Regions from separate parts of the Homo sapiens genome. Here region 1 is linked to region 2. A link means that fine-mapping ties the variant in region 2 to the expression of a gene that starts in the linked region. Tissue or cell type: nasal epithelium. Region 2 holds a variant in brackets; the other region holds the start of a gene. All regions are shown on one strand. Distances are between the middles of the regions.

Region 1 (8,104 bases), 380 kb after region 2:
CAGGGTTTCACCATGTTGGCCAGGATGGTCTTGATCTCTTGACCTCATGATCCACCTGTCTTGGCCTCCCAAAGTGCTGGGATTACAGGCGTGAGCCACTGCGCCCGGCCAAGGCCACAATTTATTACAATTTGTAGCTCCACAGCCCAGGGTAGTACCTAGAAATAATAATAAGTAATGCTCAACAAGTATTAAAAGAGTGTACAAATAAATGAATGAAAGCCATTCTACCACAAAGGGTCACCCAAACGGCAGCGTTATTGGACCTAAAGACAGAGAAGTCTCAGGGAATGAGGGAGGGCCTACCAAGTCTCGGCATTAAATACCTGGCTCCTGCCGCCCAATGCAACAAGAAGCCAAAGAAACTTTTCTCCTCATAGAAATAAATGAGAAACACTCTGGCTCTAGTTCTTCGCAGATCCTGGTTCCAGTCCTGTGCTGACCTCACCCTGCTGTTATGAGCCTGGAGACCGATCACTTTGCAAAATCAGATGTGCACTTTTCTCCATGAACTTATTCTGAATCTGTAAGTAAACTCCTCAAATTGTCAAAATACTTGTTGTATAACCACTATATTCTCCTTTCCGGGCAGTTAAGGTTCCCGGAGACCGCATCTGCCTTAATCTTAGAAAGGGCAGCTACTCCCTCCTGTTCTCATCAAATACTGTACCTTCCCCCAGAGATATCAGGAGTGAGAAGATCCTGAGACTCTCAGAATGCAGTAGGCCCTGAAGTCTGAGCTGCTGAGGAGGTGGGGAAGAGGGGTTTCCTCTGAAGCATAAAGTACATACCTTGATGGTGGCCCTGACCACACAGAAGCCTCACTCTCTAGCTTTGCTCTCTAGGCACCTAAGGGGAAGGCAGCTTCTAAAAGTCACATTTTGCACATCACTGCTTCTGATCCAGTGGTCATGCATCTTGTACCCATTATGCATGGACAACACAGCCCCCGGGGGGTTGAGCACACACCACTGAGAAATAGAAGCTGTCATGCTGTTTGATTGCTTCTTCTTCAAAAGGCGGCCTCCTTCTGACGGCATGGTCCCTATTCCCAGCAGGAGTTCTTCTCCTAGGGCTGACTCCAGAAGCCAGCCTTCACCACCAGGCTGCAGAGGCTGAGGTCTTTTATTTTGGAGCCAGTGAGTGACCTGCACTGGGGCAGCCCAGGTAACGAATGGGGCAACAGCTGCTTTGCCCATTAAGATATCCTGTTCTTGGCCTTTGCTTTTTTTCAAGCCCCAGCAATCTAACTGCCAAGCTGGTCTGTGTGCAGAGGTCAAAGCCACCTCCTTTGCAGCTTCCCCATGACTCAGGCAGTGCTTGCAGAGGCTGGGCAGTGGCAGCTCAACAGACCTCAGTTGGAAGAATGAGCACAAGGAAACAGACTCAGGCCAAAGACCTCCCTAGAGAAACCAGGTGGTGGGAGGAGAAGAAGGCTGGGAACAGAGGAAGTTCGACTCCAGGAAGGGACTAGCTGTGCCAAATGGGTTACTGTGGAAGACTCCAGCTCCAGACTGTGTGCGCCAGTCCAACTTTGAGTGACCATTTGGAAACAGTGGAGAGTTAGAGCCCCACAGGTAACCAAGGATTCCACGCCATCCCCAGAGTGCTGTGGTTATGATAATAACCAAAAAAAAGAGCATGGCACAGATTCAAGTCACAGTCCCCCAAATCAGAAGAAGAGGCTCACTTGGATGGCTCTTTTCCTCCCAGCCTCCTGTATCTGAGAAATTTCAAGAATCCAAATACTCCTCAGTGCCCAATCACTCCAACACCTGTGAATCTAAACGTTTGCAGATTTGTAGCTTCTTTGACATAGAATATCAGGAAAGGCCTTGCAAAAGGCAGGGCTGCTTCCTGGGCTGGGTCCATCTTTCTAATCCCAATACTCAGTTTCCTTCTAACTCTACAGCTGGAATCTCCAAATACTCTTGACTAAGCTCACACCACTTCCACCCCAGCAAGGGCAGAAGCTAGAGCCCTGAAGTCAAGTGTGGTCATAGGAATTTTAGTGACTTGGGAGCAGGAGCAAGCATGCCCGCTCTGCTCTGTAGTATACATCTGGGCAAACGGGTCACCCTCTGACAGCAAGGATACAGGAAAATTGGAAGAGATTTTCCCAACTCAGCTCCAAGTAAAACTCCACTTGAAACTCCAAGTGAAACAGTCTCAGCTCCAAACAGGTGCCCTAACTACACCGCCTGCTCAGAATGGTCTAGAAGCCTCTTGGACCATGCCCAGCAGAGAAGTCTGTAGGAGAAGCGGCAGTGAAGGAGGGATGCTCGCAGTACTTGAGTCTGGCCTGTCACTGCAACCCACAAAATCTCTCAATGATTCCCTCCACCCCAATCCAGGCTTTCCAGGCCCAGTACAGAGAGGGGACAACGTGTTACCCGAGAGAAATGTAGCAAGCGCTGACCTTGGATCACCTTCAGTTCTACAACCCTTGAAAGGAGACCTCAGGAGGTGTCCGAGAAGACTCAGCCGCCCATACAATAGGGGTGGGCCGTTCCCGCCCTCTCCAACACCATCCTCACGGCGTCTCCTATCGGTCTTGGACACAAACTGCAGCTCCGGGGCGGCAACTTCCTGGGTTCCGGCCCCTCGGCGCCTGATCCAGGAGGCGCTGATTGGCCGCGCCAGGCCAACACCTTCGGAAAGCGCAGGCTCTCCTCCAATGGCCCAGATGCACGTGAGCCGCCGCTCCGCGGAGCGTGGGAGAGGGCTCTCCCTGGAAACTCCACAGAGTTGGAGTCGGAAGAGATCAACGAGGTTTAAACTCGGAGGCATTGCACGATACAAAGGGGATTTGGAGCGCTAGGGGAGGTGACCCTAAAGAACGGGACTATCTGGGTGCAAAGTGACGGCAGATCAACTCACCTGCCTGGTGAAGAGGATGGCAGTGTCCCAGTACTCGGGGTGCTTGTCACTCACTTTGTTCAGCTTCTTCTGCCAGGCACAGAAGTTGCGCAGCGTCAGGGCCGCATTGCCGGTGACCTTGGGCCCGGAGTCACGATCTCTAAGAAGCAGCACCTTGACCACAACGATGTTGATGGGGTTGAGGATGCTGGGATGGCGGTAGAGTCGCGCCGCCGTTGCCAGCAGCGTCAGCAGATAATGTTCCAGGTCCGCGCCGTGGAACTTGACCATTGACTCGTCCGCGACCACCAGCGTCTCCACGTACCGCGGGATAGACACGAAACGCTTGGCGCGCCCAGACCTGCGCCGGCTACGACTCTCCCCGAAGCCCGCCCGCCGCGGCTTGTAAGGGTCCAGGGCCCGTAGGATGGCGGGGTTCCAGCCCGAGGCCACCCCGCAGCGAGAGGTGGGGTCTCCGGAAGGCCCGCCCGGAACACCCCGGCGCTGGAGAAGGTGTGCGCCCTGGCTGTTGCGCTGCGCCGCCGGCGCGCTAGCATTGGGCAGCGGGCTAATGACATACTCGGCGCCTCGGTAGCCAAAGGCTCCGCGGAGCCCCCCGCACAGGCTCACAGCAGCGAACGAGTCCGGCTCGGCGTTCACGTCCCCAGAATAGAAGCAGCGTCGCAGGTCTGAAGAGCCCCCGGTGAGCCCCTGGAGGGGGACGCCCAGATGCTCAGTGGAGAAGGCGGGAGCCAAGAACTGAGCATCCGGCGTCAGGTGTAGGTAAAAGTCCTCCTGAAATGCTGTGATCTGAAAAATGAGTCCCTGATCCCCGGAGTCCTCGGGACCCCGCCAGTAGTAGCGGCGGCCGTTAATGTCCGGGTCCAGTCGGATGGGAACGACTACCTCCCGCTCTGGCTCAGAGCCTCCAGCGGTTCGCCCGGCGAAAGCCAGGGTTAGGATGCCCAGCAGAAGCATGGCGCCGGGCAGCGCACCGCCGCGCTGTGGGAAGGGGCTGGGCCGGGCTCTCCGGCCGCTGCCGCGGTCTCCGTGCAGCCCGCACTCTGGAACCGCCAACGCTACGGGACAGCCGGCAGTTCCCAGAAAGGAGAGCCAAGGGAGGGAGACTCCTCCCAGGGCGGCGAGCGTGCACCCGGCAGCCCGCGCTTCCTACCTGTGCCTTTCCAAGCAAAGCGCGCCCTGGGAGCTTAAGTACAATCGCTGTCAAGTGCAAGGACGAAGATTTGCAGCCGAGAACTAGCGGAAGGTGCCGGGCGGCTTCTCGCAACCGCAGCCACTCGCAGCGCAGCAAGCCAGGCGCTGGGCGAGCCTATTAAAGGCCCCCTCCTCTTTGGACGGCCCAGTCAGCGCCCCTCCCCTCACTCCCCTCCCAGCCTCCCAGAGCTCGCTGCCGGAGCCTCCAGGGGCCACCGGAGAACTCGGTCCCGCCTCCAGAGCGGAGAGCCACTTGGCGGGGAGGGAGTGGCATTGAGCTGAGGCAGGAGGCGTGGGCTGGCCCGAGAAACCGGCGCTGAAGTCTCAGTTTGCGTTTTGCTCTTGGTTATGCCCCACTGTCCCGACGCCTCACTCGCTTCTGCCCCCGCGGACAGCGTTCACTCTCTGGGTCTTAGTCTTTTATCTCAGGGCAGATCAGGTCAGCAGCTAGGAATGAAGACCCTTCACTGACCCGTCCCCAGGCCCACCTCATCCCTGCTGTTGCAACATCCCTGCTGTTTCTTAATCACAGAGTCCCCTAAAAGACCCAGAATCAAGAACCACCCCCCCCCCCGCGTAAATGTCCTATTGCCAGAAGAGCAATAGGACAGGGGCATGGGAGCCCTCTGGAACCCAAGACCGCCTAGCCCCAAGGTCTGCCCTGGGCCCATGGTGTGCTGGATGGGCTGGGGCAAACTCTTCAGTTCTCAGGAATCTTGCCAGCCAGCTGTTAATCACGGACATTATTAAAAATTAAACTAAACACACTTACAATTAAACAAAGTGTATATATATATATGCACACACACACACATACATATATATACACATACATATATATATATACATACACACACACACACACACACACACATATATATATATATTTTTTTTTTTTTGAGACGGAGTTTTGCTCTTGTTGCCCAGGCTGGAGTGCAATGACGCGATCTCAGCTCACCGCAAACTCCGCCTTCCGGGTTCAAGCCATTCTCCTGTCTCAGCCTCCCAAGTAGCTGGAATTACAGGCATGCACCACCACGCCCAGCTAATTTTGTATTTTTAGTAAAGACAGGGTTTCTCCATGTTGGTCAGGCTGGTCTCGAACTACCGACCTCGGGTGATCCTCCTACCTTGGTTTCCTACCTCCTACCTTGGTCTCCTGAGTAACTGCGACCACAGACACACGACACCACGCTAGGCCAATTTGTGTGTGTGTGTGTGTGTGTGTGTGTGTGTGTGTGTGTGTGTGTGTATTTTTGGTAGAGACTGGGTTTCGCCGTGTTGCCCAGGCTGGTCTTGAACTCCTGAGCTCAAGCAATCCACCCACCTCGGCCTCCCGGTGCGGGGACTACAGGCGTGAGCCACCATGCCTAGCCACAAAGTACATTTTTAAAAGGTAATAAATACTCAAAACCCGTCGCTTCCTAAGTATTTGATAATTACTTATGGTCTTGAGCCACCAGAACCGCCAACCCTCTGAGACAGCAACTCCCAGAAAAGAGTGCAGAATGGGGTGGAAATGTGAGGGAAATATTAAATGGTGTGCTGCCCTGCATCTCCCCAGTCAGGGACATCACAATGGCTTGAAATAGGTCCTGGTAGAAGTATTTACACCACCTGAATAAGCAAATCAGAGCTGGGGTTGGGGGCAGGAAGATGAGCCCTTGTACACAGCTACCTGCCTGGCAGGGATGTGGAGATCAGGTTCTGGGGCTGCAGTTACAAGAGGAAGAGGCTGTCTTCCAGCAAACAGTAGAAAAATCGGGCCAGGCTTCCTCCATGAAATTATCTCATTTGACCCTTGACCAAACCCTGGACTGGGGACTGGCATAGGAGGCCGAGTGAGTATCAGCTGGAGAAGATGCAATCGCACCTTATGTTCCCATCTAGTTTGGAGAACAGCCCAAGGAGTTTTTCAGGCTCTAGACCTCAAGATCCTTCTTACCTCTCCGCAGAATCAACTTCTTTCTCTGACAAGGGAGAAAGGCAAGGAGAGGAGGGAGGCTTTGCTACTCTCTCCTGATACCTAGAAAATCTTTCTGGAGCCAAAGGGCTCTGAGTTGAGTTTGCAAGAGGGGAGGACAAAGAAGGGAGTGTGTGATGATTTTAAGCATAAAGGGGATGATGTGGGAGAATTTTGGAATTTTTTTTAGGGAAGTGGCTGTTCAAGGGAAGAACTCTATTGTCCAAGGAGAGAAAAGGCTGGGACTGGTCCATCAGTGAAGAGCACTTTTTGCCCATTATCTTCTCCCCATAAAGGATCCACTCTTGGAAGCGCCCCCTGGGGCCTTGGAACATGAAGATGGCTCAGATGCCCATAATTCCAGTGAGGCCTCTCCTTGATTGGGACACAAGGAGCTGAAATTCATTATGTGAATGAGTGAGAGATGGGTGTTTATACTCTGCAAATGAAAGAGAGTGTATGGGTATGGGAGGACTGTGTGTGAGACAGGGAGTTCAAGCTTACAAAGGCCCTGTGTGTTTGAGCGTTCAAAGAGGGCCTATAATTAAAGAGAAACGCAGACAACCAACAGCAATGATAAGTCATTTATTTGGGGCAAGCAATTGTTTTACTACACCCGGCAGTTTTAAAGGTGGATTGCAAGGTTTTCAACGGCACTTTACTTTCATTCTGACCCATGGGTTTTGGCAAGGGCTGCAGCATGTCAGTCAAGATGGCAGGGACCTGAGACAGGAAGTCCCTCCCACTTAGTGCTCCCCCTGCCCCAATCACAGCCCAGCTATTCTCACCCCTGAGCACAGAAACTGGCCATGTGGATTTGCTCAAAGGGATTAGCATGTATTGCAGGCTTAGTATGTGCTAAACATTGCACCAAGAGTTATATGTGCATTCTCGTATTTAATGCTTGACTGTCCCCTCTTGGAAGCCTGTGGTTCCATCCAATCACTTTTGCCAGGGAATTGAGGATCTAGGGATATGTTGAGCACTTGAGTAGAGGTGATACTCAGGATTGGCACTCCACTTCTATCACTGATCTGATTCTCTGACTCGTCTGTCAAAAGAGAAGGGGTTATCCTAGCTCAGAGGTCTTCAGCCAGAGAACTGCATCCAAAATCTGTGGTCTAGATAATACCTAAGATAACGACCAGGTCAAATATTACATGACTGATTGAGGCCTATGGAAGGGAACATAGTACAGTGATTTAGAGCCCATGGTCAGAGGGCCCTGTGTGCATGCCTCCACCAGATCTTAGCTGTGCAATCTTGGGTAAATTACTGTACCTCTCTAAGCCTCACTTTTCTCATTATTAAAATGGGGATACAAATTCTACCCACTGCCTGGACTAAATGAGTTAATATTATACTTCCAAAGTGTTTGGCAATGCTTGGTATATTTTAAAAGTTCCTTAAATATTATCGAATAGTACTGCTAATATTCTTATGTGCTATTATTATTACTCCTCCTAGTGCTATCAGTCTCTGCTAGGCCCTCCAAGCTGATTGCTGTCATCACCTTCTGAAGTTTTCTGGGGCGTGTCCTCTCCCAGTTCTGCTCGGGAGCTTTCACATTGGCTCCCACGTCCCACTTCCATAACGGGACTCCACAACCGCCATGGAGTTCTCGCTTCTCCTGCCCTCCATGATCTTAACATCCCTGGAAAATAAAAAGCAACTCCCTGTCAATGTATGAAAATGAAAATTTTTTAAAAAGCAGCTCTTCCCCCAGAGGACGACTGGGGGTCTAAGCCATCTGTCAGATCTAAGACCCCCAGCTTGGCCTTTCTGTCCTTCGCCAACTAGGCTGGCCTCTTCACAGCCTCCAGGTCTCAGCCCAAGTACAGCCCCCTCAGAGGGGCCTTCCCAGACCGCCCAATCTGAGAAGTCCCAAGTCACAATCATGATTGCATGTTTTGTCTTGTCCACTAGCATTTACCTCTATCTCTCTATCTAAACCTATTTTGCTCACTTAGATCTTTTTTTTTTTTCTTGACTGACTTCCCTCCGTTAAAATGAGAGCAGGACCTTCCCCATCTCGTTCACTGTTATATCTCCCAGAGCCTGACACAG
Region 2 (8,104 bases):
TCAACAACTACAAACCAATTATACCTAACATACATATGCAGGATGCTTCACTCAACACCAGCAGGGTACATATTTTCTCAAGTGTTACCTGGAACATTTTTCAGGTCATAACAGATTTAAACAAGACATAACAGATTTAAAATTATTGAAGTCACACAACATATCTTTTTTAACCACAATAAGATAAAACTAGAAATCAATAGTAGAAGGAAAACTGGAAAGTTACAAATATGTGGAAATTAAACACACACTCTTAAACAACATATGTGTTAAAGACAAAATCACAAGAGAAATTAGAAAATACCTTGAGATAAATGAAAATGAAAATACAACATACCAAAACTTATAGGATGCCGTGAAGGCAGTGCAAAGAGAAAAATCTGTAGCCATAAGTATTCACATTTGAAAAAAGAAAGATCTCAAATCAACAACTGAATTTTATACCTTGAGTAACCAGAAAAAGAAAAATGATGAGAGTTTATCTTACAAGGCATCAAAGAGATTGTGCTTCTCCTGATGGCCTGACCTACTCTGGCTTCAATGATTCCCACAATGTTTCAACATCTGTAGCTGCAAACTTTCTCCAGCCCACACTTCCAACATTTTGCAAGATAGTATCACATGTGTATTATGTTCCACATGTTCAAAACTGAACCCTTCACCTTCCCATTGAAATTTACTTTGCCTTTTGTGGTTCAAATCCCAAGCCACAAAGTCTTCTCTGACTCTGCTCTCCTTCACCATCCTCCACTCCACAGCAAACTGGGGGCAGTGCCTCTACTATGTCATTCATACATGTTTTCTTTCTCTTTCTAAACCACTGTTTCCATTCAGCCCTCAGAACTTGTTACTGGATACTGAAATAGCTTCTAATTGCCTGCTTTCTGCTTCTTTGCTATGAGAGTGTTAAGTGTTAAGGGCATGGGGTCTGGGGCCAAAAATCAAGATCTGAATTCTGGTTCTATTGATTTCTGGCAGTTTGGACTTGGGAAGGTCACCCAGCCTATCTGTGCCTCATTTTACTCATCTGTAAAATGGGACATAATCTACCTCATAGATTGAAATGACAATGAAATGAATTAATTCATATAAATCAGTTAGAATGGTTGCTTGAATATAGCAGGTATTCAATAAAGGATGACTATTATTATTACACTGTGGCCTGGATGATCTTTCTATACCATAGTTCTGAAAAAGTCATTCCATAATAAAAAATAGTGATATAAAGTCTTAAGTCCTTAACTTCAAGCTCAAGCCTATCTTTCTGGCCTAATTTCTCACTGTTCCTTCCAGTAACTATACACTCCAGCCTGGTCTGTTTGATGTTCATAAAATATGCTCTGCACATGTCCACCTTATGAACTATGTTCAGGTGGTTATTCTCTTTGTCTGGAAGCTCTCTCTATTACCATCTGTCAAGTTCTAGCTGTATTTCAAAGTTCAGGTCAAATGTTACCACCTTTCCCCCATGAAGCCTTCCCAGATTAAACTGGTCATAGGTACTTTTCCCTCCTCTGTATCCATGCTTTGTTCCTTTGTTTTAGCAATTATCAGAATCTTCTCTGCCATGCAGTTAGCTGTGCCTCTTTATCTACAACCAATACTCAAAGGCAGGGATCTTTTCAATGCTTCTTTGCTGCCCCAAGACCTACAGTGACTAGCAGTCACACTTTGCTTTTTACATATCTAACATTCAATGACTCTGAATGTTGGATTTATATGGACCTATTTTTTATTTCTCCAAGGCTATGCTCATAGGTTATGGATTGAGAGAGAGTGTTGGATTGAGGACCAGTGTTGACAATAAAATCCTTCATAAAATGGGAAAAGACTTTCCTCTTTCCCATTACACATGATATACTTTAAAGAAGGAAATAGCTTGGAATTCTACTGTAGGACCTTGATATTTATTATTACATATGACCCTATGGGTTGGGTATCTCTAGTTTTGTCTCAAAAACTTGGGCGTGACCAAAGGAGCTGATATAGTTACTGAAGAAGTGTGCTGTTGCTACTGGTGGTTTTTGGAAGCTGCCCTCTAATTGGCATTAACAGTTCTTACAGAAAAAAGGAGAAATCTTACTAATTACTTTCTCCTTAGCCTCACTTCTTACAAAGCCAGGTGGAGTTAACCGGATTCATCCTGATTTCCCAAAAGAATTTATAGCATTGTATTCCCTTTGCTGTCTTTTTTTCTTATTTTCAACTATTATTGAGCCCCTCCATGAGCCAGACTCTGTCCATGTCTTTGGAAATACCAAGATGAATATAATTTTCCTGCCCTCAAGGAGATCTCAGTTTTATAAAGGGAAAATAGGGCTATATAAACAAATTGCTAACAAGTGATGAGTCGGAGGATAGAGACATGGGTAAGATGTTGCATGGACACAGGGGAGAGACTGACGGACTGTTCTTCGGGGGTCAAGGCTGATATACAAGGAAGATCTTAGACTATGTGATGTTTGGGTTGAGTCTCGATGTATTAATTGGAGTAAAGCGGACCCAAGGGATGACATATGAAGGAAAGGCTAGAGCAATGCATGGGCTTGTTTAGAGGAACCCCAGCTAATTCTATGACTCATGTTTTTATAACATCTTGAAGTACATTATTGCCATGACAGCCCTGTGATGTGGGGGTATTTTCATCCCCAGTTTACAGAGGAAAGACTGGAGGACCAAAAGGATTAAGTAATTTTCCCAAGGTTTCTTTGCTACTCAGAAGCGGCGTTCACTGAGTTTCCAACCTAAGGGAAGGAGTAAAAATATTTCCTGTCAAACCCATGCTCAGAGCGTAAATGAAATCTTTTAACACTCAAACCAAGCAGCTCTGCAAAAATAGTGCATTTCCTCTTAGGAACCAAAATGAGACTCAGACCTGAAACTAGAAGGTCTCTACTACAGCCACCCCAACACATGCCTTGACAAGACATAGTATCTTGTTTCTAAAGGCGAAAGAAGCACTTATAAACAAGACTGCAAAGGCATCTTAAGACAACAAATCACGCATTTAAAAAAAAGGAACATTCTGATGAGTTAAGTGTAAATGAATCAGAAACATATGGATTCAATCTACTTTAAAAGGCCCCATGGAGTTCAGAGTGAAGGGCAAAACCCTTGGAGGAGATTACATTTGGGGATTTTTCCAAACCTAGGGCCATGAGTTCTGCCAGGCCCAGAGCTGGGCTGGCATATAGATCTGCAAGGAAACCAGCAGACTGAGAATCTCAGAGAATGATAGGGGTCAATGTATCCTGAGTCCTCAAGCCCAGACTTGGACATTTTCAGAGCAACGTCCCTCCTAGAAACACCTTTCCTGAACATCTCATTCTGGACACAGGCTGGGACACTACGTCCAGCCAATAATTTCTCCTTAGAAACTCAACTTCTACAACTCTAAAAGGGTGTAGAGATTGAACTGAAACCCTTAATCTTTCCCAAAGATCCCCTCCCTTTGGATCGAAACTTTGTGAACGATGTCCACACCATGCTTTCTATCAACACATCTGGGTCCTTGGGCTCCAGAGCATTCGCCTTGGAAGATGAAATCGAGACCACAGTCATCTTTGGAAACATCAGATGGGAAATGAATGTGCACAGAAATATTGAACACGCTTAACTAAACAGGAAGCACTGTACGAAAAAGAGAAAGATCCAGACTCATCAGTCTGGTTGGGTTACATCAGCCATGAAAATAAACCCAAGCGGTAGGACTGGAGCCCAGAGAGATCAGGCAGGTTTAATGGAAACCAGGCAACGAGCAGGTGTGTCTCTCTGAGCATAAACATCCTTGATGGCACCCCGTGTTCCATGCCTTCTCCAGGGTCCGAGGTCCCACCATGGGATGCGAGCCCATCGCACTGTTTGCTGGGCCTCCATTTCTAAACCTACCCAAGTGCCCTCTTCCAGATAAAATTCTAGCCTGCTCTGTGGCTGATTTTTCTCTCTCACAGTGGGGTTGTCATGGAAACGGGCCTTTCCCATCCACCACTGATTGAATCAAGTTTCGGAGCAGGGGTGGGGGGAGTGCTAAGAAAAATGAGCAAGTGGAACAGGACTCTCCCCAAATGCTGCTTAAATTGAAATCATCTGTTCTCACAGCCCAGGCTCCCCTCCCCAGCCACACCCCGGCAGCTGTGAAGGTGGGCGGGGCAGCCGCCCTCACCAACAGGGTGGATCAGAGTAAGGTGAT[G/A]TGCTGAGAAATGCACTGAGAAATGCACTTCGGGCTGCTTTTCCCCCCTCCCCCTGCACGCCTGCTGCCAGCTTTCACACTGGGCATGGGCCAGCCTCTGGGTCCCTTTCCTGGGGCCACAGAGATAATGAAGAAGTTCTAGGGACAGTTGGGGAGCTGAGCCTCACAGGCATTCTCTGTCTTCCCGAAGCTCCCATTGTCACCTCCTCCCCAAGACAGGCCTTCTTCTCCCTTGTCGATGCCTGAAATCATCCACCTTAGCGTTTTGTTTCTTTAGCTTAGGACTTTGATACTTAAGGCAAATAACCCAGGTGAAGAAGGAATAGCAACGCCTTAACGTGAAGAAAGGATGCTGGCCCTGCTGCAGAAAGTGGGCATTGTCAGCCTTAGTGAGACAAATTTGCTGAGAGCCTACTGTGTGCCAGGCATGGTCCTAGATACCAGGACACAGCAGCGGGAAGAACACAGTGGCCTGGGGGGCAGGAGAGACAGACACCGTCCAGAGGAGTTCAGGAGCCATGTGGAGCACCAGAGACCAAAGATGCTGCCGTCATCCCCTTGCCTGGCTCGCAGGCTGGAGTCCAGAGCCCCAGGACCCTGTCTAGCACTTCCTTCAGCTAGTCCTGCCCTTGCAGGGAACATTCAAAATATCTGAGGAACTTCTTCAGATGCAGCAGTGAGCTCTCTGGCCTGCAGAGCCTGAAGGGCTGCCTAGGGTGGATGGATAAATGGCTCACAGCCTTCCTTAGACATGCCTCAGTGTGCATATCTGTTACTTCAGCACCAAGAGTTCTGATGCCCAGAGGGCAGGGAGGACAAGTCCAGGAAAGGACACTGCTTAGCAACGTTACACAGATGGCCAGCACTTTGGCTGAATCTGGCCGAGCCTCCTGTGGGGGGAGATGCTTCCAGAATCCGGTTACCCCTTCCTCCCACACCCCAGGATCTCCAAATCCACAGGGTTGGGCGGGTGCCTCCAAAGCCAGCACACTGTCAGTGAATGTTCTCAGCAGGTTCGTGGATAGATAGAAAAGGTGACCCGGAAAGGGGTGAAGGAGAACAATGGGCAAGGGTGCAAAAAAGGGGGCAGGATTCGGTGGTGGGCTTCTTGCCCAGCTTAATTGTTTTCATCCTCAAAATGATTCCTAACAGCTGGGCCAGGGATCATCCTGCTCAGATTCCACAGACTGCGGAGGGAAGCCAAGGGACTTGGCAGGCGAGTCCTGAGGCCGGTGCACAGGCGAGCTCAGTGCGGGAAAGGAAGGGGTGAGAGAGGCCCAGCCATTCTGCTCTGTTACAGCTTTTTTGGTGGGTGCTTTGAAGAGAGAGGGGTTGGCTACAGCCCAAGCTGAGTCCAGGCTTTCCTGCCAGGGTGTCCTCCCTTCCCTCCACATGACACCCAGGGTGGTCACCTTCAGGCCTTTCCCTGGACACCTGACCTGTGACATAGCTTCCAATTTCCTGTTGTCTTGTGCCAGCTTTCTCAGGTGGCCAGAGCAGAGGGCCAGCAAGGCCAAGGGCTAAATGCAAATCCCCAAGGAGATAAGTGAGCAGCATTCTGGTCTGTGGCCCCAGGTGGCTGCCCTGACCCTAACAAACCATGGGATGTATGTTGGCCTCTGGTCATGAGAGGAGCCAGCTGCAGCACGGGGCTGAACAGTGTAGCCTAGGTCTGTCCAGGCAGCTGTAGCTCCATCAACAGCAAAAAATTGCACATTTCAGCCCCTGAACTTAAACGTGTGTGGCGAACGTGGCGGCAGTGCTTGCCTGGCCCCAGCTTCCAGCCTCGAGGTGGAAGGGGTTTCAATACATGTACTAGTTTCTTCCAGGCTGTCTTGGTGACATGATTTAAATAATTATAAAACTCTCTAGCATATAAAATAGGTGACAAATACCAGAAATCAAGCACTGGAGATAAACAGCCTCAAACTAGGAATTTAGTCCTCCTGCAATATAATTCCATCTGAATTTTAGCCGTTCACTCAATCATTACCTGTTGTGTGCCTAATACTATTAGCAAGACACTGCTATAATTGCTTATCCTCTCATTTAATCCTTGTAACAGTCATGTAAGGCAAGTACTATTATTATCTCCATTTAACAAACGAGCCCACTGAGGCACAGAGAAGATAATTTAATTAACTCGCCCAAGTCACAAGGCTAAATCCTAGAGCAGGGCTTGGAACTCAGTGCTCTTGACCATCATCTGTATACTATGTGACAGTACTGTGCTGAGTTTTCTAAGGGAGTGAAAATACATTTACGAAGTGGTCATTGCCCTTGGGGAATGTACCATCCTCAAGACTTAAGAATGCTCTCCAGGCTGGCCTGCACAAATTTCCTGCCCAACCTGAAGCTTTGACCTCTGTATACCTTGGGTCTTTGGACTTCAGTGCTATGGCCTGGCCATCATCAGCCAGCCCCTCTCCTTTCCCTACCCATTAAACCCCAAAACCTACTGAAATCAACCTTATAAACCTCAACCTGTTCTTCCAGGCAGGTCACCCAGAGCTCCTTCCTACCTCGACCATTACCCTGAAGTAACGGAAAGGATTATACAGCCCTTGCCTAGCTTCATGATAAAGATCTTGTGCAGAGGCCAGAGGACACCGCTGAGTTGGGCCCACTGCCTGGGCTCAATCCCCGCAGCCAAATGTGAACCAGGTCAAATAGCAGAGAAATGAGACACACTGAACGCCGGAGCCCATTTGGCCTAGCCCAGCCAGCAAGGTCACCCTCAGCTGTCGGCTTGCAGACAGGTCACTTGGCATTTTAGTGACTACCCTCACCTGCAGATTTGGGAGATGGCACTTGGCATTTGGTCTAGAAACTGATTTCTCTGGACCCCAAGAGCTGGCACAAAGTTTTATAAATGAGCAAAAGTCAAAGAGAAGATTTCATTAGGAACTTAAATGTGGAGGTTCCAGTCAGGGTTGCAGCAAACAGGGCCTGAAAGCGCACCAACGTCAGAGTGATGAAGATACAAAAAGAAAGCCTAAGAGGGATAGGAACATTCTGGAGCTGGTGAGGGCTATCAGACACCATCGCAGAATGTTAGCCAGTGACTGGATCTCCTTCCCTGGGGAGCCGTTAAAACACAGGTGCGTTTTGAAGACAGGAGCTGGAGATGATCTGTCCATCCCACTGTTGACTTCTGGCTCTAGAGTCACCAAGAGTCTTTAGAGAGGGCCAGTGTCTTTGTTTGGTGCCTCTCCTTTGCCACAGCAACTGCTTGTCTCAGAGGTACTAGGGCATGGGGGCCTCTGAACAGCTTGTGACAGCACCTCGGCTCAGAGAGAAAGGGCTTCTTGTGGGGCATGATGTGGATGAGGATGGCAGGATAAATCAAAGGTGCCCCAAAGGACACCCCCTTTCCTGAAATCAGGCTTGGTTTTATAAACCTGTGAGGATTCCATTCTGTTCCAAGAGGGAAGCCAGGCGGGGCTGGCAGAAGCCCCCAGGGCGCCCAGAGCTGCAGCAGCCTCCAGCCTTGGGTTTCCAGAGTAGAGAGCAGGTAACATCCAGCCATTGTCCCCGCCTCCCTCCTTTGCAATGCCCCCATCCCTGACATCACAAGTGAAGGCCCAGGATCTGAGAGTTGCCTGGGTTATGGCAAGTTCCAGGAGGTGGCAGCCGTGTGTAGTCTGTGAGGAGGATCTGACTCACCCCCAGCGCCTCACCAAGGTCACTGTTGGTGACTGGGAGGTTTCCCACCCTGCCACCCCACCCCACCCCACGTCTGGCTGCTCAGGAGTCAGAGATAGCTTCATGGGCCATGGCTAACCCGAGACAGGCAGCACACCCACGTGTGCGGAGAGGGGCTCCAAGGCTGTGCTCTAGGGTGGCCATGAAGCTCAGCTGACTTCCAGAGAAACAGGCAGGAAGCAGGGGCTTGAGGGCACTGGGCCCGCTGTT

What was found. PIP is the estimated chance that this variant, and not a neighbour inherited with it, causes the effect.
Region 1: ADAMTS15 starts here. The variant in region 2 is fine-mapped to the expression of ADAMTS15 in nasal epithelium (TOPMed, PIP above 0.99).

What each region holds. Positions count from the first base shown.
Region 1 is chr11:130,444,707-130,452,810 of GRCh38, reverse strand. It overlaps ADAMTS15 (ADAM metallopeptidase with thrombospondin type 1 motif 15), which reads right to left and starts at 4,166. Exons shown (of 8, transcript NM_139055.4): 1 at 2,881-4,166. The coding sequence starts at 3,837. RefSeq lists an enhancer at 696-1,197.
Region 2 is chr11:130,827,695-130,835,798 of GRCh38, reverse strand. No RefSeq gene overlaps it. Among named protein-coding and RNA genes, the nearest start is that of LINC02551, 30 kb to the left of the region's middle. The variant G/A (reference allele first, on the strand shown) is at 4,190.